Linked DNA regions of Homo sapiens. The protein of the gene in region 5 purifies or fractionates together with the protein of the main gene of each other region. This does not show direct contact. Each region holds a gene or a part of one and is shown on either strand. Other genes may lie near its edges.

What was found.
Region 1: the proteins of NMS (region 5) and EDEM1 purify together in Homo sapiens (affinity purification with mass spectrometry; one large-scale study listed by BioGRID and IntAct). This does not show direct contact.
Region 2: the proteins of NMS (region 5) and CYS1 purify together in Homo sapiens (affinity purification with mass spectrometry; one large-scale study listed by BioGRID and IntAct). This does not show direct contact.
Region 3: the proteins of NMS (region 5) and CD109 purify together in Homo sapiens (affinity purification with mass spectrometry; one large-scale study listed by BioGRID and IntAct). This does not show direct contact.
Region 4: the proteins of NMS (region 5) and LRP6 purify together in Homo sapiens (affinity purification with mass spectrometry; one large-scale study listed by BioGRID and IntAct). This does not show direct contact.
Region 6: the proteins of NMS (region 5) and LRP1B purify together in Homo sapiens (affinity purification with mass spectrometry; one large-scale study listed by BioGRID and IntAct). This does not show direct contact.
Region 7: the proteins of NMS (region 5) and TCTN1 purify together in Homo sapiens (affinity purification with mass spectrometry; one large-scale study listed by BioGRID and IntAct). This does not show direct contact.

What each region holds. Positions count from the first base shown.
Region 1 is NC_000003.12:5,207,555-5,212,342, reverse strand, and holds part of EDEM1 (ER degradation-enhancing alpha-mannosidase-like protein 1), read right to left. Parts: intron 4,251-4,788; coding exon 4,080-4,250; intron 2,169-4,079; coding exon 2,095-2,168; intron 1,224-2,094; coding exon 1,127-1,223; intron 1-1,126. UniProt on the Homo sapiens protein: Extracts misfolded glycoproteins, but not glycoproteins undergoing productive folding, from the calnexin cycle.
Region 2 is NC_000002.12:10,066,264-10,071,051, forward strand, and holds part of CYS1 (cystin-1), read right to left. Parts: intron 1-4,788.
Region 3 is NC_000006.12:73,804,203-73,807,702, forward strand, and holds part of CD109 (CD109 antigen isoform 1 preproprotein), read left to right. Parts: intron 1-2,641; coding exon 2,642-2,870; intron 2,871-3,500. UniProt on the Homo sapiens protein: Modulates negatively TGFB1 signaling in keratinocytes.
Region 4 is NC_000012.12:12,182,257-12,187,044, reverse strand, and holds part of LRP6 (low-density lipoprotein receptor-related protein 6 isoform b precursor), read left to right. Parts: coding exon 1-122; intron 123-2,933; coding exon 2,934-3,065; intron 3,066-4,788. UniProt on the Homo sapiens protein: Component of the Wnt-Fzd-LRP5-LRP6 complex that triggers beta-catenin signaling through inducing aggregation of receptor-ligand complexes into ribosome-sized signalosomes.
Region 5 is NC_000002.12:100,469,203-100,473,920, forward strand, and holds the start of NMS (neuromedin-S preproprotein), read left to right. Parts: upstream 1-1,279; 5' UTR 1,280-1,286; coding exon 1,287-1,362; intron 1,363-3,592; coding exon 3,593-3,648; intron 3,649-4,286; coding exon 4,287-4,337; intron 4,338-4,718. UniProt on the Homo sapiens protein: Implicated in the regulation of circadian rhythms through autocrine and/or paracrine actions.
Region 6 is NC_000002.12:140,352,973-140,357,760, reverse strand, and holds part of LRP1B (low-density lipoprotein receptor-related protein 1B precursor), read left to right. Parts: intron 1-1,284; coding exon 1,285-1,419; intron 1,420-4,688; coding exon 4,689-4,788. UniProt on the Homo sapiens protein: Potential cell surface proteins that bind and internalize ligands in the process of receptor-mediated endocytosis.
Region 7 is NC_000012.12:110,644,415-110,648,103, forward strand, and holds part of TCTN1 (tectonic-1 isoform 1 precursor), read left to right. Parts: intron 1-552; coding exon 553-715; coding exon of another isoform or gene 716-729; intron 730-2,781; coding exon 2,782-2,922; intron 2,923-3,334; coding exon 3,335-3,478; 3' UTR 3,479-3,479; intron 3,480-3,689. UniProt on the Homo sapiens protein: Component of the tectonic-like complex, a complex localized at the transition zone of primary cilia and acting as a barrier that prevents diffusion of transmembrane proteins between the cilia and plasma membranes.

The DNA.
Region 1 (4,788 bases), on a different chromosome or scaffold from region 5:
CAGGAATCGACAGCAGGACAGCTGTCTTCCCACTGGACAGATCACATGGGCTGCTGGTGGACATACCTCTGCAGTCATCTGTGAAAAGACCCCAGACAGAGAAGAGTATCGTCTTAATGGATTAGACCAGCAGCTCCAAAACCTGGCTCATGTGAAACCACTGGAGGCACTTGTCAAAATGACAGATTTCTGAGCCCGCTTATTCTGAAGATTCTGACTTAATATGGCTGTCATCTTAGCAAGGGCCCCAGGGTGATTTGGACCCAGCTAGCCCCAGGCCTAGGAACCACGGAACTAGATAAACACAATTTATCACAGCTGCTTCTATCTCTGACCCTCTGCCCAAGTTCTCAGTTGCCATGCTATCTTCTAACCTGGAAATCCTGCCCTCTGTTTCTATGTGGCCATACTGAGGAAAGTGGCAGGGGGCACGAGAGTGGCTGTATGCACGAGGCAGAGCGGTGAGATGGAAAGAGCACCAGACAGGGAGTCAGGACCACAGTTCACACCTCAGCTCTGCCACAGCCATCGCCATACTTTGAGCAAGTCGCCTGACCTCTGTGTAGGCTGTAGTTCTTGTGAGGGAAATGATGAACATATGAACATTAGGTAATACCAAAGGGTTCGTCCAGGTCCAGAAATTCTCTCTCTCTACACACACACACACACACACACACACACACACACACTCACTCACTCATGTGCCTGAGGATGTGTGTATGGACAGAGACAAGGCTGAGCTGCAGGTCTTGGCTAAGATCACATACATCAAGAGAAGTGAGAAGCCATTATGAACACAGCTCTCTTCCTCAGAGGCGTCTTCCCCGACCACCTGTAGTTAGATACAGAACTAACACTGGTTCTGTATCAATCGTTACCAGGATTTCCCACAGTTTGTAATCATAAGTTCAGTTCTTGGTTTACTTGACAAATGACTTTTCAACAAGGTTGGAAACCATGAAAGAAGATAGTAATATCCTTTGGTTCTGACAGCGTTTGCATCCTGGGAATGCACAATGTCCAGCACATAGCTTTAGCCAGTAAGTACCTGTCAGATGGAAGACTATGCGAATGCTTGCTCTAAGCAATACTAAATATTCCTGGGTTCATCTTGCAACACACATACCAGATACAAATATTTACAGGTCTCACTGAGAAAGAAGCTCTCCATCCGGTCTTCTGTGGACTTGTCAATGACGTGATGCAGCGTGGCGTACCCACACCTACAAAACAATCATCTGGTCAGTCCTGCCTCTCTTCCTTCCCACCTGCTGATTCACTTAAGAAGCAGAAACATTCTCTTATCAGAATAATCAACCAGTCATCCAACACCATATGAAACTATGTTTACATTGAGGGGCTCTCCTTTTTTATAGCCTGGGTTGTTTGCAAATTTACTTAGCAAGTGCTTTTGGCTGCTAAATTATCAGGTGAGTTAGAGGGTGTGGGCGTGGTGGCGGGGTGCTGGCCAGAAGCATAACGTGGCACCAGGAAAATGACCGGCAACAAATGTAAAAGGACTAATTTAAATTTCTAGTCCTAATACTTGTAGAATTGACTTATTATTGAGAATTGACTTATTATTTGAGTATTGACTTATTATTTAAGATAGTACTTAAAAAAAAAAACTTACAGCAGGTAAAAAAAAGCATGTCACAAAATTGAAATATAGAGTATGTTTCTTATATATACATATATACACACATCATATATAAAAATATTTAAAAGATTATAAGTACATACATTTCAATACTGACTACAGTTTTCTCTGTATGTGGAGATTACAGTGATAATATTCTACTGCTTTATATTTTCTGTACTCCCTAAACATTTTAGCGTATATGTTATTATATAACTAGGGGAAAGAAGTTAGAATGAACACCCATAATCTGCTAGAACCTCACGGAAAAGAAAGGGCAGTTCTCAGTACAATGGAAAGGTTCTACTACACCAAAAGGTAAGCAATTTCCCTGTAAATGTAACATTAATGACCTGGTTCTATAAATTAAAATGCAAACTAGGATATTTCCCCAAAACAATTTGAAATAAATTAAAAGTGGCTGACAGAAAAAGGTAGGAACTTAGAAAACTGACTTGACTTTTGTGTACTTTTCCAGACTCTGCAGAATATCCATTCCTACATGGAGGTAGAAGGGATTCTTGGTTGCCTAGAGAGAACACGAGAGAATGTGATCCAGCATGGGCTTGGAAGACATGCCATCGACAAACATCATGGTGACTGCGGGGCTTCCCCATGGAGACGAGTCGCCAGCCAAAGGAAGAAACAGGGCCCAGGTCATTTATCTTGCAGGGTCACAATGGTTAGAGGACTAAGGTACTCCGTCAGTTCACATCAAAGAGTACCTGTGATTTGGTTAACTTTAGCCAGGGGTAAGACCATCTGTTCCAGGGTAGAACAATAGTCTACTTTGGTTGCCATCATGATTAGAAACAAAACAATGCCCACGCTGACAGCACCATATCTGAGAACAAATCCAATTTCTATCTTGCCTCAGAACTCTCCAGAAACTTAAGACACAGGCACAGGAAAGAGGACCTTGCCGCCATTCCAGTTATGGCACCATGAGGAAAGGCTGATGGGAACAAGACTTTCCGAAGTATGAAAGGAGGCCGCCACCCTTTCCTTTCTAATCACCCTGAGAAATCAGTCCTCAGTTGCCTACTCTTCTCACACATACTCTTAGATGGTTTTACTAGAGAAAAACTTCTCTGGGAAGATAAGCCTTTATCCAACAAACAGTTTAAAAGTTGGGGATCTTTAATTCATGCCTAGTGCCAGATTGCAGCAACAAACAACAAGGTTAGCAGTCTCCAGATTAAAAGTGCACAGGGTGTGGCTTCGGAGGGTAAAGCTGAAGAGTGCAAGACATCTCTGTCAACGTGAAGGAGAAACGGAAAACATGAAAGAAGCAGTGACAGAAACAAAGAGGAGTAAGCTCACAGGCCACAGGACTAAGCTTAAGAGAAGAAATCAGCCAGTAACCGGCACGCCATCCTCCGTGTACAGTCTTTCTACTGGGCTCAGAAAGGCCAAACAGGTGGCTATTATCTTTTCCCTTTTTTGAGAGGTTACCTAAAACTCATGAAGTCCCTTTTTAGGCATGAGGACTACTACCAGTTTCACAGGATTTCTTTCCCCTTTTTTCATCTGAAGCAAACGGCAAGGATTTGGTATAAAAAAATTGTTGAATAAATAAATTCAAATCTTAGTGTTAGCTCCACTACCAGAGTTTCTAAAACTCCCCACTACCAGAGTTTCTAAAACTCAGGCCCTGCTTGCTAGGGCTGGCCCACGGTGGGCATCTGTTACCGGCCTACTGAATTTCACCAAGGCCAGTTTCTTGGTGAGTTAACCACTCGTGCTGCTGTGCATGTGGATGGAGGAGGACTCTCAGTGTGTATATATGTATGGCATACACAGAAGTATAAATACCTGGCTTCAACCGTCAGGAAGAAGACATTTCACAGTTAAAGTCACATTCCCTCTACCACTGAAGTAATTTCACAAAGGATGAACACTATTACATATATATGTGTGTGTGTGTGTGTGTATATATATATACACACACACACACACAAACACAAACATTAAACAAAAACAGGCATCCAGATGAATCCAAGATGATTTCCTTTACAACCAAGAAAATGAATTTTCTTTTTGTCTGAATAGTTGTTACACAGACCGGGGCTCCACAGTACACTGATGCAGAATTGCATCCTAAAAACGGGTCTTCTGGTCACATACATTTGGAAAACACCTTAGTACCAAATCTTCCTCATGAATACTTAAAGATGTGAGTTATAAGTCCTACGGTAAAAACATGATTCAGCTTTGTAGAATATTAGGTTAAAAACATATTTGACTGCAGATGCCTTCTCTGTCCTGTGAAGTTACGAATGACACTGAACACTAACAAGACTACGGATAGGGGGTAACTCAATCAGAGTCACTATGAAACAACATAACCCTAAATCACTCAGCAAATGTTCATTAAGAATGAACTGCTGGGGTCAGGGGAGGCAGTGAAAGGAAAAAAAAAAAAACACAACTCTAGTACCTGGTAGAGGAGATATGTGGATTCCACTAACTCTGGTCTCAGTGGGTAGAAGAGAACGTCAGGGGCCTGCAGCTGCCAGTTATATCTCTCAGGGAGGGCACCATATCGTTTCCATATGGCATAGTAGAAGGCATGAAGGCAGATGGCATCTTCCACATCTCCTATCAGCACCTAAGGAGAGGACACAGGTCATCAGGCTGAGATACCATTCCTAGAGTGACAAGACATGGCACAAAGGGCCTGCCTGGGCTCTCCTCTGCCCCCGAGTTCTTAGTTGACCTACACATACGGTTAAAGACAAAACCAACCCAAAAGTGACAACCCAGACAAATAAATGCCCTCCCTATCTGGCCACTAATGCCAAATTGATGTGAGCTGCACACAGAAAAAGAGATTACGTGTACTCATGAACAAGGAATAAACAACTGAGCGATGGATTATCCAAAAATCTCACACAGCCCAGCACAGTGCCTCATGCCAGTAATCCCAGCACTTTGAGAGGCTGAGGCGGGCAGATCACCTAAGGCCTGGAGTTCGAGACCAGCCTGGACAACACAGTGAAACCCCGTCTCTACTAAAAGTACAAAAAATTAGCCGGATGTGGTGGCAGGCGCCTGTAATCCCAGCTACCCTGGAGGCTGAGGCAGGAGAATCTCTTGAACCCAGGAGGCGGAGGTTGCAGTGAGCCAAGATTGCGCCACTGCACTCC
Region 2 (4,788 bases), about 90 Mb from region 5:
CCCACTGCCACCTAGCACGAGGGCACCCCGTGTGTCACCTCCAGGGATCTTGGGACCCACCGCCACCTAGCACGAGGGCACCCCGTGTGTCACCTCCAGGGATCTTGGGACCCACTGCCACCTAGCACGAGGACACCCCGTATGTCACCTCCAGGAACCACGCGACCCCGACCCCACTCTAAACATTGCCCAGAACCCTCTCCCTCCCCCACTGAAGTGCTTTCTCTTCATAAGGCCAGGACGTGTCTACACAGCATGTGGCTGCCGTGGATTCTATGGTCCGACAGTCCACTTGTCTACCCGTGCAGTGCCAGAACCACCCTGTCTCATTCCTGGCATCAGGCAAGCCTGGCTGTCCGCTAAAGCATGTCTTCCCAGCTTCTTTCTTTTTCCAAGAGAGTCTTGGTGATTCTTGGCTATTGGCACTTCCACGTACAGGTGCTGCTCAGCTTACAATGGGGTTACGGCCCGAAGAAAACATTGCAAAGTGGAAAAATCCTATGTTGAATCATCAAAATCAGGGACCATCTATACATGTATTATAATCAGCTTGTCATATTTGGGGGAAAAAAACCTTGGGGATTTTTCTAGGGTTGTATTAAACTATAGATCATTTTAGGGGGACTTATAGCTTTACAATAATGAGTCTTCAAATTTATAAATAGGGAATATCTATTCATTTAGGACTCCTTTAGTGTCTTCTAAGAAGTTATCATTTTCCCTATAGAGATACCATGGATATCTCTTTTTATTTTATTTATTTATTTTTGAGACAGAGTTTTGCTCTTGTTGCCCAGGCTGGAGTGCAATGGTGCGATCTCAGCTCACTGCAACCTCTGCCTCCCGGATTCAAGTGATTCTCCTGCCTCAGCCTCCTGAGTAGCTGGGATTACAGGTGCCCGCCACCACACGCAGCTAATTTTTGTATTTTTAGTAGAGATGGAGTTTTCCCATGTTGGCCAGGCTGGTCTCGAACTCCTCACCTCTCAGGTGATCTGCCCACCTCAGCCTCCCAAAGTGCTGGGATTACAGGCGTGAGCCACTGTGCCCAGCCAGCAATGTTATCTTTTTAAAATAAAATTTTCTACTTGCTTGATGCTTCAGAAATGACTGAGATATATACATTTTAAAAAAATTCTTTTCTTTTTTTTTTTTTTTTTTTGAGACAGGGTCTTGCTGTGTTGCCCAGACTGGAGTGCAGTGGCCTGATCATAGTTCACTGCAGCCTCCACCTCCCAGGCTCAAGCAACCCTCCCATGTCAGCCTCTCGTGTAGCTGGGACTACAGGCTCGTGCCACCATGAAGAGCTAATTTTTCATTTTTTGTAGAGATGGGGTCTCACTGTGTTGCCCTGGCTGGTCTTAAACTCCTGGACTCAAACAATCCTCCCATCTCAGCTTCCCAAAGTGTAGGGATTACAGGTGTGAGCCACTGGGCCTGGTCAGAGATATATGAATTTATCTTGTGCTTAGCAGTCTTACTGAATTCTCTTATTAATTCCAGTAATTTATGGCTTCCTTTGGATTTTCTTATTTCCCATTCACATGATCTGGGAATAATGGCCATTTGATTTTTCCCTTTCTGGTCCTTATACATTTTTCCCCTAACCTTTCTGCACTGGCTGGGACCTCCAGTAGTACAGTAAAAGGAAGTGATGATGACAGTCATCTCTATCTTAATCCTTTATTGAAAGAAAAAGTTTCCATCACATCATGACTGAATATGATATTTGCTGTAGTTTCTTCTCCAGCTATCTTGTATCAGGTCCTTGTCTCTCTATGCTGTGTTCTGGGTCATTTCTATCTCCCTCTCTCCATCTCACTGATCCTCTCTTCATCTCTGTCTAATCTGTTAAACTTATACCATTGATATCTTTCATTTTGCTTATTATATTTTCCATTTCCAGATGTCCTATTTGGTTCTTTTTCACATCTTCTAGGTCACTTTCTATAGTCCTTGTCCTTTGCAGGTGTTTTCTTTAAACATAATAAACGTAGCTGATTATAGTCTGTGTCTGGTGATCCTAGTAACTAAGATCTTCATTGGTATATTTTTGTTTCTTGTTTCTTCTAAGTCTTCACTTGGTTCTTTGGGGAGTTGATTATTTTTTGTCATTGGCAGCTTGTCATCATTGAAAAATTCCCTCTGGGTATTCTTTGAGGCCTAAGAGGCCTTCCTCCAGAGAGGGGATGCATTTGCTTTTGTCAGGCACATAGCAGGCATCCCTGGTCTGAAACCACTTCAAATTAAATCTATACTTTCAAGTATTTTGGACCACCAGGTGATGAGAATTTAGGCTGCAAACATAAGAGGTGCCTGGGTTGAGCTTACAACTTCCTAGAGCTTGCAAGATCTTTCTGTTCAAAGGAAAAAACTTTTGGGTAAATAGGTGTACACGATTACAAAGAAACCCACTCCAACTGCATGTGCTAGTCAACCAGTTTTTGGTTCATAAATATAAATGGTCATAAAACGACTCACAAACATTTAAAGGGGGAGGGCACATGAAAGAATAATCAAGATGAACCAGCTAGGCGTGGTGGCTACCAACACTTTGGGAGGCCGAGGCGGGTGGATCGCCTGAGGTCAGGAGTTCCAGACCAGCCTGGCCAATGTGGTGAAACCCCATCTCTACTAAAAACACAAAAACTAGCAGGGTGTGGTGGCGGGCACCTCTAATCCCAGCTACTGGGGAGGCTGAGGCAGGAGAATTGCTTGAACCCAGGAAGCAGAGGTTGCAGTGAGCTGAGACTGCACCACTGCACTCCAGCCTGGGTGACAGAGCGAGGCTCTGTCTCAGAAAAAAAAAAAATTAAATTTTAAAAAATAAATAAAAGTCTCCAGGAAGGGATGAGCAGGCGGAGACAGGCCACCTACAAAAAGCCAAGAGTCAGGTGGCCTCACCTGCTCATCAGTGACACTGGAATCCACTGTTATAATGGCTGCAAAGGTATAAGGGAAAGCTATTTTGAACTCAGAATTTTAATTCCAAATAAACTATTAATCAGGTATTAAGAAAATGAAGATATTTTCAGACATACAAAGACTTAGAGTTTATCTCCTATTACCCTTTCTGGAGGAAAAAAAATTAATTATTTTTATTTTGTTGTTGTTGTTGTTTTTTGCGACGGAATCTTGCTCTGTCACCAGGCTGGAGTGCAGTGGCACAATCTTGGCTGACTGCAACCTCAGCCTCCTGAGTTCAAGCGATTCTCCTGCCTCAGACTCCCGAGTAGCTGGGACCACAGGTGCGTGCCACCACGCCCAGCCAATTTTTGTATTTTTAGCAGAGACAGGGTTTCACCATGTTGGCCAGGATGGTCTCGATCTCTTGACCTCATGATCCACCTGCCTCAGCCTCCCAAGATGCTGGGATAACAGGTGTGAGCCACTGCGCCTGGCCGAAAAAAATATTTAAAAAAAATTTTTTTTTTAATCATAGAAGATAGAGGTTTCATGAGCCTAATGGAATGCAAGGCAGAGGAAACTTTGGATAATGTGTAATAAGGCCAGAAAGCAACCTGTCAGTGTCCAAAGTTCCCATGACATAAATTGAGCGATCAGAGTAGCTGCTCCAAATATCTGAAGAGCTCATGTGGAAACAGGCCACACTTCTTCTGCCTGTCCCAGGGGCTCAGTGTGTCCCCACTAAAGGGAGGTGGGTTGTGTTCAACACAGAGGACTAAGTCAGAGCTGCCTGTGAGGGAAAGGCTGCCCCAGGAGGCAGTGAGATGCCTGTCACTGAAGCCAGACAGAGGCTGGGTGATCCAACAGCTCATGCCCCCTTCTTAGAATTCAAAATCAAGGCCAAACACACACCCTGAAGTCACGCACTTCTATTTCTAGGGTCACTGTGAACGCTCAGCAGGTGAGGAGGGGGAGGGCAAGGGTAAGAAGGGATCGCGACAACAGCGTCTTCATGCTCCCGTCTCCTCACCTTCCGGGCCTTGGTGTACTTGGTTCAATGCCAAGGAGCTCCCCAGGGTTCTCCCAGCCTGGCCCAGTACCCTCTGATGGGTGTGGCTTTGCCTTGACCTCTATCGCTGCGGTCCCCGTGCTGAGATGGAGAACCTGTTTTATTTTTATTTTTCACTTTTTTTGAGATGGAGTCTTGCTCTGTCATCCAGGCTGGAGTGCAGTGGCGTGATCTCGGCTCACTGCAACCTCTGCCTCCAGGGTTCAAGTGATTCTCCTGTCTCAGCCTCCAGAGTAGCTGGGATTACAGATGTATGCCACCACACCTGGCTAATTTTTGTATTTTTAGTAGAGGTGGGGTTTTGCCATGTTGGCCAGGCTGGTCTTGAACTCCTGACCTCAAGTGATCCACTCGCTTCAGCCTCCCAAAGTGCTGGGATTACAGGTGTGAGCCACTGCGCCTGGCATATTTATTTATTTATTCGAGACAGGGTCTTGTTCTGTTGCCCAGGCTGGAGTGCGGTGGCCTGATCATAGCTCGCTGCAGCCTCAACTCCTGGGCTCAAGCAACGGTCCCATCTCAGCCTCCTGAGTAACTGAAACTACAGGCACATGCCACCACACAAGGCTAATTCTTGTACTTTTTGTAGAGACGAAGTCTCCCTATGTTGCCCAGGCTGGTCTTGTACTCCTGAGCTCAAGCGATCCCCCCACCTCGGCCTCCTAAAAAGTGCTGGGATTACAGGCATGGTGAGCCACCACGCCCAGCCTGAGAACCCTTTTTGTTTGTTTGTTTGTTTTGTTTTGAGACGGAGTCTCGCTCTGTCATCCAGGCTGGAGTGCAGTGGCGTGATTCGGCTCACTGCAACCTCT
Region 3 (3,500 bases), on a different chromosome or scaffold from region 5:
TTGAATATCAGTAATGTTTACCACATGAAACTTTATATAACATGAAACAGATCTGCTTCAAATTTTCTCTTGGCCTTGGCCTGACTCAGGATATAGAACCATAAATAGAAAGCTTTCAGTGTTGTATTGCTTGATGTTCTTTTTACCTCAGTATAGTGTTTTGTAGCAGGGACTGGCAAACTTTTCTGTAAAGGGTCAGATTGTAAGTATTTCAGGCATTTTGGGCCACGTAGAGTCTCCGTTGCATGCTCTTCCCTCTTCCTCCCTCTCCTCCCTCTTTCTTTCCTGTCTTTGTCTTTTTCTTTTCCTTCTTTTAAAACCCGCTCTTAGGTGGTGGTGTTGGCAGGTGGGGGCTGGGTTGGTGCACACATAAACAGGCCCTGGGCTGTATTTGGCTTGAGGGCCAGATTTGGGCCAGGCAGATTTGGCCCACAGGCTGCAGTTGGCTAACTCCCATTCTATAGGAGAGAAAAATATCATTTTCCCCACCTGAAGTACTACAGTTTGCTTGTGAACTATGTATGCATTCTTCACCCACAGCTTTGGGGCTGACTGAAGCGTGTTGGAGCTCTTCTTTGGTAAATATCTAGAACAGTCCAAAGATGAATAACCTTGGACAATTTATTTAACTCTCTTGGACTGTCAGATTCTCAGTCTACAAAATAATGGAGCTGGATTCAACAGACACATTAAAAAATGCTCATCATCACTGGCCATCAGAGAAATGTAAATCAAAACCACAATGAGATACCATCTCACACCAGTTAGAATGGCGATCATTATAAAGGCAGGAAACAACAGGTGCTGGAGAAGTTGTGGAGAGATAGGAATACTTTTACACTGTTGGTGGGACCATAAACTAGTTCAACCATTGTGGAAGACAGTGTGGTGATTCCTCAAGGATCTAGAACTAGAAATACCATTTGACCCAGCTGTGGGGAAAAGAAAGAGAGATCAGATTGTTACCGTGTCTGTGTAGAAAGAAGTAGACATAGGAGACTCCATTTTGTTCTGTACTAAGAAAAATTCTTCTGCCTTGAGATGCTGTTAATCTGTAACCTTACCCCCAACCCTGAGCTCTCTGAAACATGTGCTGTGTCAACTCAGGGTTAAAGAATTAAGTGCTGTGCTTTAGATATGCATACACATAAACATCTCAATGCCTTAAAGAGCAGTATTGCTGCCCGCATGTCCCACCTCCAGCCCTAAGGCAGGTTTCCCCTATCTCAGTAGATGGAACATACAATCGGATTTTATACCGAGACATTCCATTGCCCAGGGACGGGCAGGAGACAGATGCCTTCCTCTTATCTCAACTGCAAAGAGGTGTTCCTTCTGCTTATACTAATCCTCCTCAGCACAGACCCTTTACGGGTGTTGGGCTGGGGGACGGTCAGGTCTTTCCCTTCCCACGAGGCCACATTTCAGACTATCACATGGGGAGAAACCTTGGACAATACCTGGCTTTCCTAGGCAGAGGTCCCTGCAGCCTTCCGCAGTGTTTGTGTCCCTGGGTACTTGAGATTAGGGAGTGGTGATGACTCTTAACGAGCATGCTGCCTTCAAGCATCTGTTTAACAAGGCACATCTTACACAGCCCTTAATCCATTTAACCCTGAGTTGACACAGCACATGTTTCAGAGGGCACGGGGTTGGGGGTAAGGTTACAGATTAACAGCATCTCAAGGCAGAAGAATTTTTCTTAGTACAGAACAAAATGGAGTCTCCTATGTCTACTTCTTTCTACACAGACACAGCAACAATCTGATCTCTCTTTCTTTTCCCCACACCCAGCCATCCCATTACTGGGTATATACCCAAAGGATTATAAATCATGCTGCTATAAAGACACATGCACACGTATGTTTATTGCGGCACTATTCACAATAGCAAAGACTTGGAACCAGCCCAAATGTCCATCAATGATAGACTGGATTAAGAAAATGTGGCACATATACACCATGGAATACTATGCAGCCATAAAAAAGGATGAGTTCATGTCCTTTGTAGGGACATGGATGAAGCTGGAAACCATCATTCTCAGCAAACTATCGCAAGGACAAAAAACCAAACACCACATGTTCTCACTCATAGGTGGAAATTGAACAATGAGAACACTTGGACACAGGAAGGGGAACATTACACACCGGGACCTGTTGTGGGGTGGGGGGATGGGGGAGGGATAGCATTAGGAGACATACCTAATGTAAATGACGCGTTAATGGGTGCAGCACACCAACATGGCACATGTACACATATGTAACAAACCTGCACGTTGTGCACATGTACCCTAGAACTTAAAGTATAATAAATAAAAATAAAATAAAATAAAATTAAATTAAAAAATGGAGCTGGATTAGATCATTTCTAAATTCCTTTTCAAATCTGAGATTTTTGAGTCAACATGGAATTTCTTGGCCAAGCCCAAGTGGAAACCAGTTCTGCCTGCTAGAGAGAGTTGCTTACCTTGTCCCTTTGCTCTTTCTTTTTTGATTTTTTTCTTTCCTTGTTCCATCTTCAGTGATTCCCCCTTTGATGAATCTTCTGATGGGGGAAAAAGTGTTGTTGTTTTGCTTGCTCGGTGTTATTTGGTGGACCTTATAAAGTGTATTTTATGTAATTTTTTTCTCTTTTCATAAAGGTTGTCAGCTTTTGTTTTAAGATGTTTCCTTGAAGCCGATCCTTACATAGATATTGATCAGAATGTGTTACACAGAACATACACTTGGCTTAAAGGACATCAGAAATCCAACGGTGAATTTTGGGATCCAGGAAGAGTGATTCATAGTGAGCTTCAAGGTGGCAATAAAAGTCCAGTAACACTTACAGCCTATATTGTAACTTCTCTCCTGGGATATAGAAAGTATCAGGTATTTCGTATTTAATTTAATAAATGATAGATGGGAAATTCAAGGAAGGTAGGTCTTAATGGGTCAAATATGTGTGTGGAAACTTAACAAGTTGCAGCTTTACAACACATGTGAAATCTGAATTTGAGTACTCTTTTGCTTTGCATTTGTGGCCATGTTCCAAAATCTGAGAATAAAACATTAACCCACTCTTTCAGAATAACTAAGAGAATTCTAAAAATGCTTTTTAATGTATGTATTGTACTTGCTATTGGTAAGATAAGTCAATACATGTTTTATCATTGAAAAAGTTAATTTCTGAGGGGAAAGAAAATTATTTAAAATTTGACAATGTGTTCTAGCAAGTTTAGATTGCAAAGGATTTTTTACTTATAAAACATCATGGAACAGTTACAATATCTGTTAATTTAGTGCTGAGAACACCCATACCCTGAAAAGTGTGTTGAATGGGCATGGATGCCTGGATGAGAATGAGTATGCGTGGAAAGGTATGCTGACGAGCTTAAGTTTGCTCCAGAGCTGTCCTGGTGATTGATGCCTTTACTGCTTACTGCCTGCTGCATTTTATGAGATCACCAAAGTCATTCTCTTTATTAGGACCCCCACTATTTTCCTATTCTACTAGTAGGC
Region 4 (4,788 bases), on a different chromosome or scaffold from region 5:
CTGGAGCACACACTCCATTTTGGCTTGCAACAAGTATACTGGTGAGGGTCTGCGTGAAATCCATTCTGACATCTTCTCTCCCATGGATATACATGCCTTCAGCCAACAGAGGCAGCCAAATGGTAAGTGATCCTTGATTTTTAAATTGCAAGTTGGAACAGCTTTGTAGCACTCTAATGTCTGGCTTTAGTGAGGATCAGGAGGAGGGAGGGCATATCCAAAGATAGTTGGCGGGAATAAAAAAGAGTTAAAATCCTACTTGGGAGGCTGAGGCAAGAGAATCACTTGAACTCGGGAGGCCGAGGTTGCAGTGAGCTGAGATTGCGCCACTGCACTCCAGCCTGGGAGACAGAGAAAGACTGTGTCTCAAAAAAAAAAAAAAAAAAGTTAAAATCCCAGCACTTTGGGAGACTGAAGCAGGCAGATCATATGAGGTCAGGAGTTTGAGACCAGCCTGGCCAACCTGGTGAAACCCTGTCTCTACTAAAAAATACAAAAATTAATGGGGTGTGGTAGTGTGCACCTGTAGTCCCAGCCGCTTGGGAGGCTGAGGCAGGAGTGTCACTTGAACCCGGAAGGTGGAGATTGCAGTGAGCCGAGATTGTGCCACTGCACTCCAGCCTGGGCAACAGAGCGAGACTTTGCTCAAAAAAAAGGGAAAATGTAAAAGTATAATTCAGGTTAGGCAATAGCCTAGACCATTTTGTAGCCTGTCACTACAGACCACCTCAGCCTTTTTGAGTCAGCGCTTTTAGAGGTGGAGAAGAGAGAGATAATTTAAAAATTGAGATAGCTTATATGCTAGGCTTATACACAAATGAGTTTTTTTGTTCATATTATTTCTTTCAGTATGTAGTTGAATGTGTTGATGTGAGTGTGTTTAAAAAACAAACTCTTGGGCCAGGCGCGGTGGCTCATGCCTGTAATCCCACACTTTGGGAGGCCAAGGCAGGTGGATCACTTGAGGTCAGGAGTTTGAGACCAGCCTGGCCAACATGGTGAAACCCCGTCTCTACTAAAATAACAAAAATATTAGCCAGGCGTGGTGGCGTGTGCTTATAATCCCAGCTACTTGGGAGGCTGAGGCTGGAGAATCGCTTGAACCCGGGAGGCAGAGGTTGCAGTGAGCCAAGATCACGCCATTGCACTTTCAGCCTGGGCAACAAGAAAGAAATTATGTCTCAAAAAAAAAAAAAACAAAAAACACACACACACACAAAAACGCCTCTTCTTTTTAAATGAAAACTCTGTTAATCTAGAATATATTTGAATTTAAGTACCTCAGCTTGCTAAATAAAATACCTACTTAAACTTTTCTGTGTACCCCTCCCACCTTGTTTTCCTTAGTTTTGGTTCTGTGTTTGGTCAGCCTTTACAATGACTCGGGCTATGACTGCTGAGAACTTGTAAGAGAGGACTGGAATTAGGTTTAAAAGGAATACGAGAATGTTAAGGGTTTGGCACTTTTGTGTAAATAAATGTCTGGCATCTGTCTGAGTGTATTTCAGATTTTATTACATAGCCAAAAATGAAGAGATTTTGCAACATATGTTGCTTTATATTAGCTCTCCATTTAGGGGGAGATAATCAAATATTGAAAGTGTTATGTTGGAATCTGATGATCATGAGCCCATAAAAATGTTTTTAAGTGTATGTGTTACTCTTCTGTACAAAAGAAAATGTTCAGTCACTTGTATGAATTTTTTTATTCTTCATAGCCCTCAAAAGAGAATTTTCCCTGTTTTTTGTTTGTTTTTTGAGATAGAGTCTTGCTCTGTTGTGCGTTTATGTGATCACGGCTCCCTGCAGCCTCGAACTTCCAGGCTCAAGTGATCTTTCCACCTCAGCCTCCCTAGTAGCTGGGACTACAGGCATATGCCACCACACCTGGCTAATTTTAGTATTTTTTATAGAGGTAGGGTCTCACCATGTTGGTGACCCAGGCTGGTCTCAAACTCCTGGGCTCAAGTGATCCACGCACCTAGGCCTCCCAAAGTGCTGGGATTATAGTCACGAGCCACCGTGCCTGGCCTCTTGTTTTTCTTTTTAAATGGCATTGTTGGTCCTTTATGTTTTACTAATTTGAGAATTTGCAGTTATCTTTCATGTTGGTTACTTTTATCTTTCATGTTCCATTGGTCTCCATCTTATGTTGATTTTTTTCTATGAGTATTGTTTGGACATATCCCTTTCCATAATTTCCAAAGTTTGCTAATTAGTTTTCTCTGATTTTCATTTTCCCCTTTTTTCTGCTTATCCCTTCTATGTTAATCTTCCCAAGGCATGACTTTTCAACATAATTACTTTTCTTGGCTTTCAGTGTCCTTCACTTTAATCTATTCCCATTCTTTGTATTCATTCAGCTTTAGTTCCTATTAGTCAGTAGAAACCTTAACCTCCAGTTATACTGTTCACCTTAATATCTTACCCAGTTTATAGCCCCCAAAGTTTTATTCAGATAGCTTTACCATACTTGAAATGTCCTCTTATCTATCCTTCCTATCCTTGAAGGCTCCCGTGCTGTATACTCCACAAAGCTCTTCTTCAATTCTTTAAACCTCAGCGGTTTTTTTCCCATTTGACTCTGTACTTATTGTCTATAATGTGCAAAATAGCACTTAGTTTTATTGGTTTTGTTTGTTTGTTTGTTTGTTTTTAGTTTTGCTTTTTGTTAATTTTGTTTAACTGACTAAATTGTAACCTCTTTTAGGGCAGGGATCTCCTGCTTTACTTCTTGTGTATTCCTCTTTGGTTACAAAATACTAAGTAAATTCACACTGATTAATTCCTGTCTTTGCAGATGGTTTGATAGTCAAGCACCTGCATGACATTTGGTAATAATTTTGGCTTATCACAGTTGTTCATGTTATGGTTGTTAACCTTTGTGTACTTAGTAATCATTGATATTAATCAATGTGATTTATATTTGACAGCCACAAATCCATGTGGAATTGACAATGGGGGTTGTTCCCATTTGTGTTTGATGTCTCCAGTCAAGCCTTTTTATCAGTGTGCTTGCCCCACTGGGGTCAAACTCCTGGAGAATGGAAAAACCTGCAAAGATGGTAAGAAGATATTATCCAAAATGAAAAATTTTATAACTATTGGAATTCTTCATGATTTGTTTTCTCTATAATCAGCTCTCTAGGTTATACTGCTTTGGGAGACCAGTCACTTAATTTCACAGTCTTCACACATGGTTATAGAATAGGAGTGTTTTGTTCTGTGGCATCACTTGAATGCTATTTTATAAATTATTTTAGTGTTTTAAATAACATATTTTTGAAAAAAGTTACGTGTTGTATCTTTTCTGTCAAATCTCATAGTCATTGATATCACAGTTGATAACTATGGAAATGAGTAGTCGCATAAGGAATATATTTTTAACAGGTAGCATTTGTGAATAAAGAACCTCTGTGAAAGAAAGTATGTTTATTAAACTTTTAGCTACAAAGAATATCATGAGATATATTTTATAACAAATTATTTAAGGATGTTTTAAATTGCTTTTTAACAACAGAGAGATGCTTTCAGAGCTGGGAAAAAAAATCCATATTTAAAACAACTTCTTTTTATACTTAAGAAACACACTTTGCCTGTTCTCCTTACTCTTAATTCCCTATAGAGAGAGGGCACGTTGGAGAAAGTATACTGATTTAGGACATTTTAAGGGACTTCCAGTTTGGAAGAACACCAGTTCTTCTGTTTTTCTTCTTAATGAGAATGTTATTCTTCATTCTCACCCCTATGGATCACCATCTGGTTCTCTAGCAACCAGCAAGACCTGGTAAGAAAATTGTTGTATTTAGCTGTGGCTTCTTTATCTAACTCTGAAAAGCAGAAGCCTGTGTTTTGGAGTGTGTTAGAGTCCCTGGCAAGGGGGCCAGGGAGTCAGAGAGATGGAATTGAGTCTGTGTACAGGATGTTTGTTATGACTTGGCATTGATAAATTATCCTCATAGTAAAAGGTGAAGCTGGCTGACTCTTGGTCAAATGGTTTCCATGGCAGACAGCAATTTGGTTTCAATTTAAAACAAAAGGTTTTTGTAATGTTGCTTTTTTCTTTAAAAATGTAGCCTGACTTTAAAACAGAGGATTTATTTTAGCAATAATGGTCTATCTGCTCCCTCACAGCAGTGCAAGTGTACATATTTAACCAGTTTTGAATTTCATGTGTGCATTTGGCATGTAGTAGCCTTAAGTTAACTGTTCTGTTTTGATCACCTTGCTCAAATTAACAGCTCTATGACTTCTTTGTGAAGTTCTAGGCTGGCTCCTTTTGGTTGTTAGCCGGGGCAGTGAATTGTACAAAGTTATTCCTACTTGGTTCCTGCAGTGGCATTTGGGCTGTATTTTCTTCAAGTTGGAATTCATTTATAATTAGCTCTAGAGTGAAAGGGCTGATATTGAGAGGCTTCACTCCTCTTCTCAGTTTTTTGACTTGTAATTGCAGATTGATTCTTGAAGTTTATATGCCAGTATTTTGTTTTGGACTCATTTATTTAGCTGGGAATCTTTTCTTATTCTTTCAGTTGTCAATTTGCTTACTGTCTTTTATTAGCTTCCTATAGTTAGACGATTTTTTGCTGGTGGTTTACTTGAACAATTTAAAATGAAAAAAAGATTGAGCTCAGTATCTTCATTCTTGGTTATGTGGTTAAGTATTTGGGGCTTGGGCTTTAAACAGTTCATAAATAAACCTAATTTAAAATTCAGTGAAATAAAAATCTGAAAATCTTTATTTTTTAATACTGTTGTTAAGTATTAGTTAATATTTCTTGAGTACTT
Region 5 (4,718 bases):
AACTGGTCTCTACTAAAAATACAAAAATTAGCTGGGCGTGGTGGTGGGCGCCTGTAATCCCCGCTACTCAGGAGGCTGAGGCAGGAGAATCGCTTGAACTCAGGAGGCAGAGGTTGCAGTGAGCCAAGATCGCGCCACTGCAATCTAGTCTGAGTGACAGAGTGAGACTCTGTCTCAAAAAGAAAAAAAAAATAAAGATATGCATAATGAAAAAAACAAAAGATATTTGTTTCACGTATACTATGTATGTTGCCCTTTTTGCAAGAAATAGAAGACTTCAGTCTTTCTTCTTCTTTCTATCTGATGTCTAATCCCAAGGAAGCATGTTTAAAAAATTACTTATCAATTAAAATTCCATATTCTTACAGAAATGACTGGGCTCAGGTACCTTTGAGTCCAAATTTCTTCTCTGATCCTTGATAGCTGGATGACCTTGGACAAGTTTCTTCATCTTTCCTAGCCTCTGTTTCCTCATTCATAAAATTAGGGTAATAACACATTCCTAATAGATTTTCTGTGAGAATTACATGAAATAACCTATGTGAAATGCCTAAAACAGATCCCAACATGTAGAAGCTCAGTAGATGAAGTTATTTATTATTATTAAACATTGTCATGTTTTCCTGAATACTGACAATTTGAAATATTTAACTTGTTCCTTAAAATGAATCTGGAAAGACCTTAAAGAGGCTAATTTCCAGCCATGATCTAAAAAACAAACAGAGCCCCAATTGAACTTTAGATTTTTACAAATATTATACAGAAGACTCCAAATTTTGTCCTTCTTAAATGCACCAAGATAACACAACATCCTTTGTTAGAGGTGGAAAATAAACAGCTTCGTAGGAAACAAGACTTTATCAAGCAATAATTTAGAGATTTGTGTCCTTTTTTTATTTTATCTCTTTTATTAAAAAGAGAAAAAGCCATTCTTGATTCAGAAATATTTCTCAGATCATTATAGAATAACAATCAGGACTCTCCACCTTTTATTTTCATTGCTGGGTTGTAAAACATGGCTCTCTACAATGCCTACTCCAGAAAGATATTATTCTACAAATAAGGGCTCAGCATGACATTTATGAGAAAGCCGGGGTCCTCCTGTGCAAAGCTGATTGGTGATCAGCCAGTGGGTTCCGGGGCGCTGCAAATAAAGGCACTTTCTTCGCTGGGCTGATCAGATGCAGGACAGAGGGTTGCCTCTGCCTGTGGACCTTGGGGAAATGCGCGGCTCCTGTCCTAGCAGCACCTGTCTGTGGCCAGCAAGGAGAAACCAGACTCTCACAATGAAACATCTTCGTCCCCAGTTCCCTCTCATCTTGGCCATCTACTGCTTCTGCATGCTACAGATTCCCTCCTCAGGTAAGGGGAGCTTCCTCAGACTCCATCTGGCCTAAACTCTGAGGATGTCTGAGACAGACCTTGATCCCCCAGGGCAGCTCTGGAGGGAGTCAAGCTTTATTCTCCCCCGCCAGACCTTCTTGATTTCTGGCTGCAATTTGTTGGAACCTTTAGGAGAGGATCAAGAGAGCGAGATGCTGCAGCCTTTTACTAAAGGAGACTTTTCCCTGTGGGACTGTCTTTAAGCTGCTCCTGCCCTAGGGATGTCCTGAACATGTGTCGCTAAAACTGAAGGGAAAGGCACTTCCTGGTGTGAGTTAGGGGAAGATCCCACTTGTAGCCATTTCTGCTCCCTGGATTCTGAAGAGACGAGGACAGAGTTGGTAAAACTGAGCTTACAGCCCCAGAGAGTGGAAATTGATGGGCAGTTCGAGAAGGGCGCGGGAGGAGCGCACACTGGAAAAAGGAATCTTTCCCAAGCCTTTCCATTGGGTTTTAGAGAAGCAGGGTTCCAGAGTGTACCGGAAGCCGCTACCTCCCGGGGCCAGTGAGCTGTCCGAGGTGCTGACCGGGTGCGGGCATCGCCTCACCGACTCTGAGAACTAGCTTCTAGGGAACAGGGGTGGAGTGAGGGTCTGTGGTTGGAATCTGTTACCACCATCTTCATAGGATGCAGGGAAGTGGGCGGTGGCAGAACAACTACGGTTGGAAACACATACCATTTTACATTTTTCCATTAGAATTTTGACTTAGGGGAGTAGAAAATCTTTGGTAATATATTGACAGAGAAAACATATTTCAAACAATATGTTTGTTTGTCATGTCCTACAATGTAATCACAAAACTGGGCCTTGCAAAGGACCATGAAGGTCATCTGGTTTAACCTCTCACAGGGTGCAGGGATCCCTTCTGTAGCTTCCCGATTCTATTTAACTACTTCAATGACCCCAACTCACTGCCAGCTATGACAGCCAGGTTCTGCCTCTTTGCTCCAGTAGAGTCCTGTTTATATTACATTTTTGTAAATATGTTATTACCTTTTATGTATCTTTCTATATGTTTATACTCACCTCCCTATTTTTTCCTGTTTGACTTTATGTTCCCTGAGGGTAAGTCTTTACGTTTTATTAGCAAAGAACCTCTCCATAAATCCTTATAGGATTGGTTTGCATTACTTTGCATTATTGAATGATTCCAATCACCAAAAACTTCTTTAGGCTAAGCTTAAGTGTGATCACATGTAACTTTCTAACCGTCAGTCTTTATTCTGTTATTTGGGGGAAACACAGGATAAGACTAATATCTCTTACTTATTGAAGTTCTCAAAATAGTTGAAAGCAGTTAACATATACTTCCTAATTTTCCTGTTTCCAGAGAAAACTATGCTCAGTGCCTTTACCTCATATCTTATCATTTCAAGTCAGGCTATTATCTTTTAAGGTTTAGGCACTGTTATTTGAATATAACATAACATTGCCTTTGCTTTATCTTGGCTCAGAGAGAACGCAGGGAACAAAATACCATACAATTTTCTTTTGTCTTGTTTTTAAACATAAACTGCTCTTGAGCCATACATTCCCTGTTCCACACATTAAAAATCTAAGTGCCAGGTTTTATATTTATCCATCTAATTTCATCTTGTTAGTTTTGACCTATCCAATTGATTCTTTCGACTGCACTATAGCTATCCCACCAAGTGTTGTATCACAGGCAAGTGAGAAGAGGAGTTCATTGAAGTTAGACAAAAGGTTGACAGGGTCCAGCTGCATGCCAGCAGCCTTCCCCAGAGCCCATCCCTAGAGAGTCTGTAGCAGCAGAGAGACGGGTATCCATGTGTCTTCAAAGTTCAAAGGTGATTCTGATGTCCATCCTTTGTTGACACCATTTTCTGAGATGCCATCCTCATGAATTCTATCAAAATACAAACTAAGTTGTTACCTTGGATTTTTTTCCTCCTCTTTGCTGACTTGCTAATAGTTGTACTGAACACTCATGGTAAATTAACAACCATGCTATTTTAAATTAATCTTTGTATAAATCTCAGATTTGCTAGTGGCAAGTAGAAGTGTATTTTCTTTGTAAATCCTTTTAACAACATCAGATCAGATCTTACTTTCCCACTGACCTCTTTTGAATGGTTCTTTGGTGGTTTATTATTTTAACAGAATGTCTGTTTTTCATGATAAAGACTTTGAAGTAAATGCTATGACCTCTTTTCTCTAATTAATAATTTTATGATTTCTCACAATAGGATTTCCTCAACCTTTAGCTGATCCTTCAGATGGCTTGGATATTGTGCAGCTTGAGGTACCCAATTATTCAGTAATGTGAGATTTTTGTTTAGTCTGGACCTTGAATACATCATGTGTATAATGTTCACTTAAAACTATTTTGAGATCAGATTTTTGGCTGCAGCAGAAACTCACTGTTGCCATTTTTCATGGCCTCATTTAAGGCATCCTGAGGGTTGTGTTGAAATTCACTACCACTGTGTGAGAAAATAATGTGAGGTTCAGAAATAGGACAATTTTAGAATTTTAAATCTGTTGTAATAAAATTCTGCTGACTGAAGAATTTAAGCTTATCTTTGATTCGTTGTCTAAATTTTAAATGCATAATAGATGTACATACTTTCAGGGTACATGTGATATTCTGATACTTTCATATAGTGTGTTACAACCAAGTTGGGGGAAATGGAATATCGATGGATATTAAACATTTACCTTAAATAGTTACATTTTCTTTATGCTGGGAGCATTTGAATTATTCTCTATTAGCTATTTTGAGATATCCCATAGATTATGGTTTATACTATAGTCACTCTACTGAATTATCAAACACCAGGCCTTGTTTCTTCTATCTAATTGTATTTGATTACCCATTAATCAATCTCTCTCTTCATCCCCCTCATCCCTTTGATTTGTTTTCTTCATTTTATTTTTTAGCAGCTGGCATATTGTCTGAGTCAGTGGGCACCTCTTTCTCGCCAACCTAAGGTAAAAAAATGTGTATATATATAATATATATAAAATATATATATATGCAACAAACACACTCTTTTGCTACCTACAGGAGAATGCTGTATGTATGTGCATGCTTATGTGTGTTCAAGAATATAATTTTAGAAAAAATCAAGCAAATATCTTAAATATAAATATGTTAAATATCTTAAGTATCTTCAATATAAATTACTATAAAATATGGGTAGTTCATGTATATTCTTACAATTATTATAATCATGTATAGTTAAGCTAATTATATGTTATGATATATTGCATATTACAAATTGATATACCATGATATAGCAGTTCTCCAAAACAATAGTTATCATTTAAAAGACTTTACAGTAACTAGTTGGGCCTGGTGGCTCACACCTG
Region 6 (4,788 bases), about 40 Mb from region 5:
CAGAAGCTGAGAAATCAATATTCAAATATCGAAGTTGATGTCAGCAATGTAATCTATATCATTTAGTAATTTATCTTATACAAATTTAGTGTTAAGTTTTATAAACGGTGATATTTAGTTGAATGATAGTAAAGGTCTTAATTTTTTCAATGTTAAAAAAAATTTAATCCATTGCTGAGTCATTCTTACAGAAGATGTGATTTTTTTTTTTAGTTACAGTGCCATGATACTTGAGTTATTACCTGCTGATTGCGAATAGTTTGTGTCTAATGCTTGGTATTTGATTTTTTATATTAAAGAAAAATAATTAAATGTATGATCCTAAATTCAGTTTGCTTACAAAAGTCACACAATATTTCCTACTTTTACATCTTTTTTTTTTAATTTATGCATCTAAAACTTTCCTCATTTAGGGATGAAGCAATACCCACCAGGATATGGCTGCATGTGTCTAAACCATGGTATCATTCCACTGACCTATTTTAACTAATTGCAAAATATTCAAGTCAGTGGGGTTACAACGATAATAATTAAAGTTCTCACATTTCTCAAAAATTTGATTTAAGTAACTTAGAGATGATATGATGTCTCTATAATAATGTCCCTCTCATTTATTTAAAAGAGAAGGCCTTCTAAAATGTTTTCCTGAATGGGAGATAAAGTAATAAAATTGCAACTGCTATCCTGGAAATTACAAGTAACTTTTTGTCTGTCCTAAAATGTTGCAGCTTATGACCAACCATTATGAGCACATTACACACTCAAATGTTACTCTTCATATGTATGTCCAGCATAAAAAAATGAAATTTAAACTGCTGATTTAGACAACTTGCTTGAGTAACTTAGCAGTACCCTTGATTGAGTTTACAAATATTAAGCTTAGGTTAGCAATAAATGCCTAAATTTCTAGGTAGCTTATAGGAAATGCTTTGGCTCTCAGAGAAGGATGTAGTACTCATATATCGTACTATAATAAAGATAGCCTGTCATTAGAATCATTGACTCCTGACTTATTTTTAAAAAGTGTTACAGCTTAACAGCAGCTCTAAATATCAACTGTTAGCAGCTTGGTCTAATCTGTATTTAATGTTAATGAGTTTAGTTTTTATACTTCTATACATTTATAAGACATGGGGGCTTATATGGAGAGAAGACCGTAACCTTGTACATTCAAAAAGAGTTATCTGTGGAATAATAAATACCATTTCAAACATTTTTTAAAAGTTAACTCCCCACTTCAGGAATTAGAATTATATTAGTTTTGATCATATTTTTAAATCCCAGCTCCTACTGAATATACCTGTGAAGATAATGTGAATCCATGTGGAGATGATGCATATTGTAATCAAATAAAAACATCTGTTTTCTGTCGCTGTAAGCCTGGATTTCAGAGAAACATGAAAAACAGACAATGTGAAGGTAGAGTACTTTTCTTCAACAGTTTGCTCATAAATCTTTGGGTTATGAAGATTCCCAAGACTTCTAAATTGTGAGATCACAGGGGATTGACTTTCATCAAAATGGTGTGTATCTACGGGATACCATTTCACTTATGAGAATGAAAGTCTCTGGGGTCAAGAGCTTGTTTGTGGAGCTAAGCTAACCACGACAGAGGCTACAAAGCTTTTTCTATAGCAAATTCAGAGCTGCAGGAATTTCAATTCTATTGCTACAATACTGTTTTGAAATGCAAATAACGAAATTCCTGGTTCAGGAACTATTGGAGAATTAGTCTTGCTTCATGAAAAAATATGTTTATGATGACCCATTTCTCTTGAGTGTGGAATTTGCAATACTGGAATAGGTAAATCACATTTAGAGAGTCATGGGCTTTTGTCCTAAAACCATGTTTTAAATAGATCATAATGTATCTTTAAAAATTCAAAGTCAGGATCTACATAAATCTGTCAACTTACTTGAGATCATTTAAAAATTGAGCATGTAGGATAGCCAAAATCTTATAGTAAGTAAGTAAATATAATTACATCAGTGTTCTAACTATAGAACCATGAAATACAGACCCATATGCACTTTCTGCAAGTTTCTCCAATAAAACTGCTATTTGTATTCATATTCATATTAATGTAAGTACAGCCAAACCTAAAATAACTAAGTCTGGCTTATCCAGGCTAAATTCAAGTCTTTAAGTGCTTTTACCTACCAGCTTGCTTTTGTTATGTCTCTTTGTGATATTTTGAGGTTAAGAAAAATGATTCTACTTCGTGTTAATCAAAATGGAATTATTTAAATGAATTGATTCTACTCACCCAAAAGGGGAAAAAGTGTAGTCACGTCATGTTTATCTACATTTTGAGTTAAATGTGTATTTGGATTATTCGTGACATTTGATTGTTCCATTACTATGAGACTGAAAGATGACAACCTAGGTTTTCTGTGTTTTAGTTAAAAAATGAATTATCTTTCAAACTATGGTATTTATTTTTCCCAGGCTCTTTCTATCAATTACATATAAACACACACACACACAATTCTTTCAATATTTTAATTTCAATAACATTTATTTTCTAATATTTGTCAGTGGGTTTTTTCTGTATATATGTACTAAATTTAGAAATTATATTATTAAAGTTTTCTTAATTTTTAATTACATTCCACAGCAAATATAACCTGCACACTACATTCTTTATTTTAAATTGCTATGAATCCACTTTTTTGTATTATTTTGTAGGACAGACGAGTAACTTCTGAACTCTAATAAAATGTTCATCTATTTTTAATAAATAAAGTTTTGATTTTAAGGAAAATAGTTCTATTTCAGTGTCAAAGAAGGGTAAGACATAATTGGATTCTATAATCCAAAAATTTAAATTTGTTTGTGCCCTTCACTTATGTATCTGAAAAAATGCATAAGAAATTGCTATTTGATGTTAAAGCCCAAACACTTCAATTAGAATATCTAAAGGGAAAAAAGTAAAGAGGAATGGTGGAAGAAAATTAGAAGGGGATTAACAGTTGCTGAGTGCCAGGTACTGTTTTGGGTACTAGGCATGTGTGGAATTCCTCCATCCCCTTCAAAAGCTCATGATCCAGGCTTTCTAGAGATGAGGCGAAAATGATGGTTCAGGCCAGTATAATGACAAGTGAGGAAGTTGAGGTTGTATGAAATCATGCAGAATACTGCTTATTTGGATTCTGTACCAAAGGGAAACCATAGTGACAAATAACTGCCGGTTCAAAGTTACAGGGGCTGAACAAATCAGAAATATTTGTTGTAATCGTGATGGTTAAGTACTGACAAGATGCATTCTACTTCATTCCTGTAAAATATTTATTAAAAACAACGAAATACACTTTTCTGCATCTCTTTACTCTACATTTCAATCAAATAGCAATGTGTGGTCATGAAAATGCTTATGTGTTCTTAGGCAAAGTATCACAGTAAAGTCAACAAAATCAGAAAACCTGAGTTTAAGCCTTGACGTTGTGATTTACAAGTGTCTCTACCTCTGAGCCCTTAGAACATTGTTTGTGTGCTACGCAAAAGATAGTTATTCTTACTGTGCTGATTCTTAAGTTCTCTAATTCAAGGGAAGGATTTATCTCACAGATTTATTAGGTAATTAGGAGATTATAAGTGATAAAATGAGGCAGGGGAAATATGCTGGCTAAACACAAAAGTAGAGGAGGAAAAGAGAGGAAAATTAGATAATTCCCTAGAATCACCTGGCCTCAATCCTGGCTCTTCATAAGCCCTTAAAATTAGAGTCATGTGCCAAGCTACATGACTCTGATTAAATCACATGAATACTGCCTGTGATTTATTTATTTATGCTAGTGATTTAGAGGTATTTATTCATATATAGGCATGCAGATTTTGCTTGCTTAATTCACATCACATAACCTCAATACAGCCCTTCTTGTTACGTAGTCACTTCATATATATGAGTCCAGAAGTGTGTTAGAGATGTGCCCAAATCTTTGTTCTCTGCCAGTCATTGTGCAAAATCTGGCAATAAAAAAGGAATGTATCATAATTTATGTCCTCAAGGGAATATGAATATGTAACCACATTCCTGAAATATAAGCAACAGTGTAAGAGAGAAACACCAGGAGAGCAAAAACTGGAGAAACTAAGGATGAATCATCACTCCCATATATGGTTGGAGACCAAGGAAGGCTTTATTTCAGGTGGATCTTGAAAGATGAGTAGAAATTCTGTATGGAAAAGTGGGCAAGGGCATTACGGGATGAAAGAATAGCCCATGATACCTTCGAAGGCATGGAGGTAGGTCATCAGAAACAGCTTAAAAGAAAACCTCAAGACAGGTCTATTTGCGTGAATGGAAATCTATACAACAAACCCCCATGGCACAAGTTTATCTAGGTAGCAAACCTGCACTTGTATCCATGAACTTAAAAGGTAAAAAAATAAATAAGTAAAAATTTTAAGAAAGAAAAAAGAAAGCCCCAGGGAAGTTTGAAATTGAAGCTTTAATATTTTAAGTGGATTAATAAAAGCAATGACAATTGATAAATCTTCTACTACAAATATTGTGAAAAATGATTATACCTTCAAAAATATGACACAGCAGGTCACAGATTAAAGATGTGAAAGGACAATAAAGCTAGTAATAAGTTAAAAATAATTTTGGCTTTTTTGAAACGTGGTAAGAATAGGAGTCTGAATTGAGGGTATGATGATGCTATTTTGAGCTCTTCTTTTCTAGACCTTAATGAATGTTTGGTGTTTGGCACATGTTCCCATCAATGTATAAATGTGGAAGGATCATATAAATGTGTGTGTGACCAGAATTTTCAAGAAAGAAA
Region 7 (3,689 bases), on a different chromosome or scaffold from region 5:
CCTGTAATCCCAGCACTTCGGGAGGCTGATGTGGGCAGATCACCTGAGGTTGGGAGTTCGAGACCAGCCTGGCCAACATGGTGAAACCCCGTCTCTACTAAAAATACAAAAAAATTAGCCAGGCATGGTGGTGGGCACCTGTAGTCCCAGCTACTCAGGAGGCTGAGGCAGGAGAATCACTTGAACCTGGGAGGCGGTGGTTGCAGTGAGCCAAGATTGCCTCACTGTACTCCAGCCTGGGCAACAGAGCAAACTCCATCTCAAAACAAAACAAAAAAACCAAAAATCAAAACTTAAAAAACAAAAAACTGCTGGTGGGCTGGGTGTGGTGGCTCACTCCTGTAGTCCCAGCACTCTGGGAGGATTGCATGAGCCCAGGAGTTTGAGGCTGCAGGGAGCTATGATGGTGCCACTGCACTCCAGCTTGGGCATCAGAGTGAGACCTTATCTCAAAAATAAATAAACAAAGGGAAGGAAAGGAAGAAGAAAATGAAAAACTGCTGGTGGATGAACAACAGCCTCATTCAGTTGACTTCTTTTTCCTTCACCAAGACTGACTGGAGCTCTCCCGTGTCAGCTCGTAGCACAGAAGGTGAAGAGCCTGCTGTGGGGCCAGGGCTTCCCAGATTACGTGGCCCCTTTTGGAAATTCCCAGGCCCAGGACATGCTGGACTGGGTGCCCATCCACTTCATCACCCAGTCATTCAACAGGAAGGTAAAGGGGAGAAGGTACAGGTTCCATGCTAGTGGTCTCTGTCTTCCAGGTGGTGTGATGAAGGCAGCCGGGGAAGCCAGCTGTTAAGGAGGCAGGATGGCCCTGAGTGGGAGCGCGGGCTGAATCTTGGATACTGATTTTTGCCCCTTGTTAGCAATGTTGCCTCTGGCCAGCAGTTTTATGGCTTTGAGCCTCTGTTTTCATCTGTGAAATGGGAACGCTAGTCAATAGTGAGTGAATGGCCTCATGGGGCATTGAGAGGGTTAAGTGAGGTAACATTTATGTGGCCCTGGGCATGGTGCCTAGTGGTCCATAAATGGGAACCTCTGTGATCCTCATCCTGTTGCTACCATCATTGTGATTGCTGGTGTCCCCCGAGCCCTCTCCAGGCATCTCATGACACGATAGACGAATGTTGAGTCCTGTATCAAAGACTGAGACTGACTTCCGTGCATGTGGCTCTCCCACCCATTGTCCCCTGTTCTACACAGGCAGCCCACACCTGAGAGTTTTCACTGCCACAGTTCCTCACAGAGTTGAATGGAAGTTGACAATCCTACAGATAGGTTCCCGGTCACACATGATGCTTCTGCCCACCTTTTTCTTTTGTCTTAGCAGTCAGCGTGTGGGCCGGCCCTGGCCCAGGGGCGTGCTCTCCATCTTAGCCTGTAATTGCCCAGCTTGTTCTTGTCACGCTTTCTTCAGACCTCTCATTATCCGCTCCGAATATTTCTAGCATGGGCATAACGGGGGTGAGGACTGCTCACTTCTCTGATCCGCCCTCCCACCGAGGCCAGCAGAGACCCGGGATTACTCAGTCCCTGCCGTTCCACTGCGAAGTCTTGACTCAACTCTCCCACCAGAACCAGGCACATCGCTTCTGGCTTCTTGGCCATGGGTGAAGATGTGCAGTTATTACTCCTCCTCAGAAGGGAAGACATGGGTTGGGAGGAGAGGCAGCAGTGCGCACATGGCACCGTCAGGGTCTGTGCTGATCCTGGGTGCTCAGAGGGCCTGCAGCAGCAGGTTTTGTACCAACTCTGCCGGCAACCCAGGTAGAGGCAGGCACGAGCACCTGCTAAACTCAGTTTCCACCAGCTGCATGCTGCATTGTCTCCTAAGAACAGGGTATTCGAGAGGATTGTTCAGTCTGCATGGTTTTTAAAGGCGGTTCCAAGCTAAGGAATTCCATCAGTGCTTTTTTCGCAGCCACCAAATTTAGCAGGCCTGTGAGGTTTTCATATCCTGAAGAGATGTATTTTAAAGCTTTTTTTTTTTAATGAAAAAATGTCAGACACACACAAAAGTAGAATAGTACCATGGAGTCCCCACGTACCCAGCCTGCAGCTTCAACAGTTACCACATTTGCCAACCGGAGAGACTGCCAAGGCAGGAAAAAGCCCTGGAAAGCCCACGGCCCCTTTTTCCCTTGGGTCAGAGGCCTTAGAGCTGGCTGCCAAAGCAGCCAACCAAAGGGGCAGCTCAGCTCCTTCGTGGCACCAGCAGTGTTCCTGATGCAGTTGAAGAGTTGATGTCTTTGACAACATACGGACACTGCCTGGATTACCTAGATGTCACATCTTAATTGCCAATTGATGAAATTAGGTAAATGAAAAGAAAGCACTTAAATTTCCCCTTAGAGCATTTTAACATGACATGCAATCAGGTTTTGTCTGCTAATAATTATTTCTCCCCCTCCATCCCTCCCACCAGTTTCTTTCCTGAAGTCTGTGAGGCCGCTATAAACAGGTAGATGAAGTTAGAGCAGTTATGGCCCTAAATGGTCCACAGTTGGGTATTGGCACTACCGCAGTTTCAGGTGATGTCGGCATTTTTAGAAATAGGAGGAGATGGAAAAATTACGCTTCAGCTGTTAAAAATATTTTTGGGGCATTGAGTTACTTTAAAACACGTATATTCTCTAAGCTGTTTTTATCTGAACTTGTAGAGTCTATTCATTTTCTTGTTCAGAACATTTTGTAATATGTGAAACCTTTTATAATTAAAACTCTGAACTGCAGATTAAGTCTGACTTGCAGTTTTGTAAGATTCTAATGGATTAACAGCATTTTGTTTTGCAGGATTCCTGCCAGCTCCCAGGGGCTTTGGTTATAGAAGTGAAGTGGACTAAATACGGATCCCTGCTGAATCCACAGGCCAAAATAGTCAATGTAACTGCAAATCTAATTTCATCCTCCTTTCCTGAGGTAGGCCTAACCTAGTTTAAAGGCATAGGTTAAGACAGAAGTCTAGACACAACTCAAGTGTGGTAGGTGACAGGTATTACTTTGTGAAAAAGATTATAATTTAAACCATGGGGGTTCATAAAATATTTCAGCAGTCATTCTTAGAAACACTGACGATGGTTCTACTTACATTAGCATTCTGGTTCAGATTGGATCTTTAAAATTCTCATGAAAATTATGATATTCACGTGTTAATCAGACACCCTGGTAAAATTGTTTCTCTCATCCAAGTTAATGGCCAATTAGTGCTCCAGGACCTATCAGATTCATGAACTGACAGTAGTTGGGTGAGGAAGAGAATGAAAAGTGTCTCATTGTTGTCATTCTGGGAGCACACTGGAGGGTGGGCCTTGCATCTCTCTGTTTATTACAGGCCAACTCAGGAAATGAAAGGACGATTCTTATTTCCACTGCGGTTACTTTTGTGGATGTGTCTGCACCTGCAGAGGCAGGCTTCAGAGCTCCACCAGCCATCAATGCCAGGCTGCCCTTTAACTTCTTCTTCCCGTTTGTTTGACGTAAGTGAGGAAACTACGCCCCTCCTCTGAGGTCATCCCCTTTGGAAAGTGTGCACGTGGGGCTAGAAGTCCCTAGGGGATACTGCATTTTATACTTTTTGAGGGTCTCGCTTTGTTGCCCAGGCTGGAGTGCAGTGGTGTGATCATGGCTCACTGCAGCCTTGACCTCCTGGGCTCAAGCAATCCACCCACCTCAGCCTCCTAATAGCT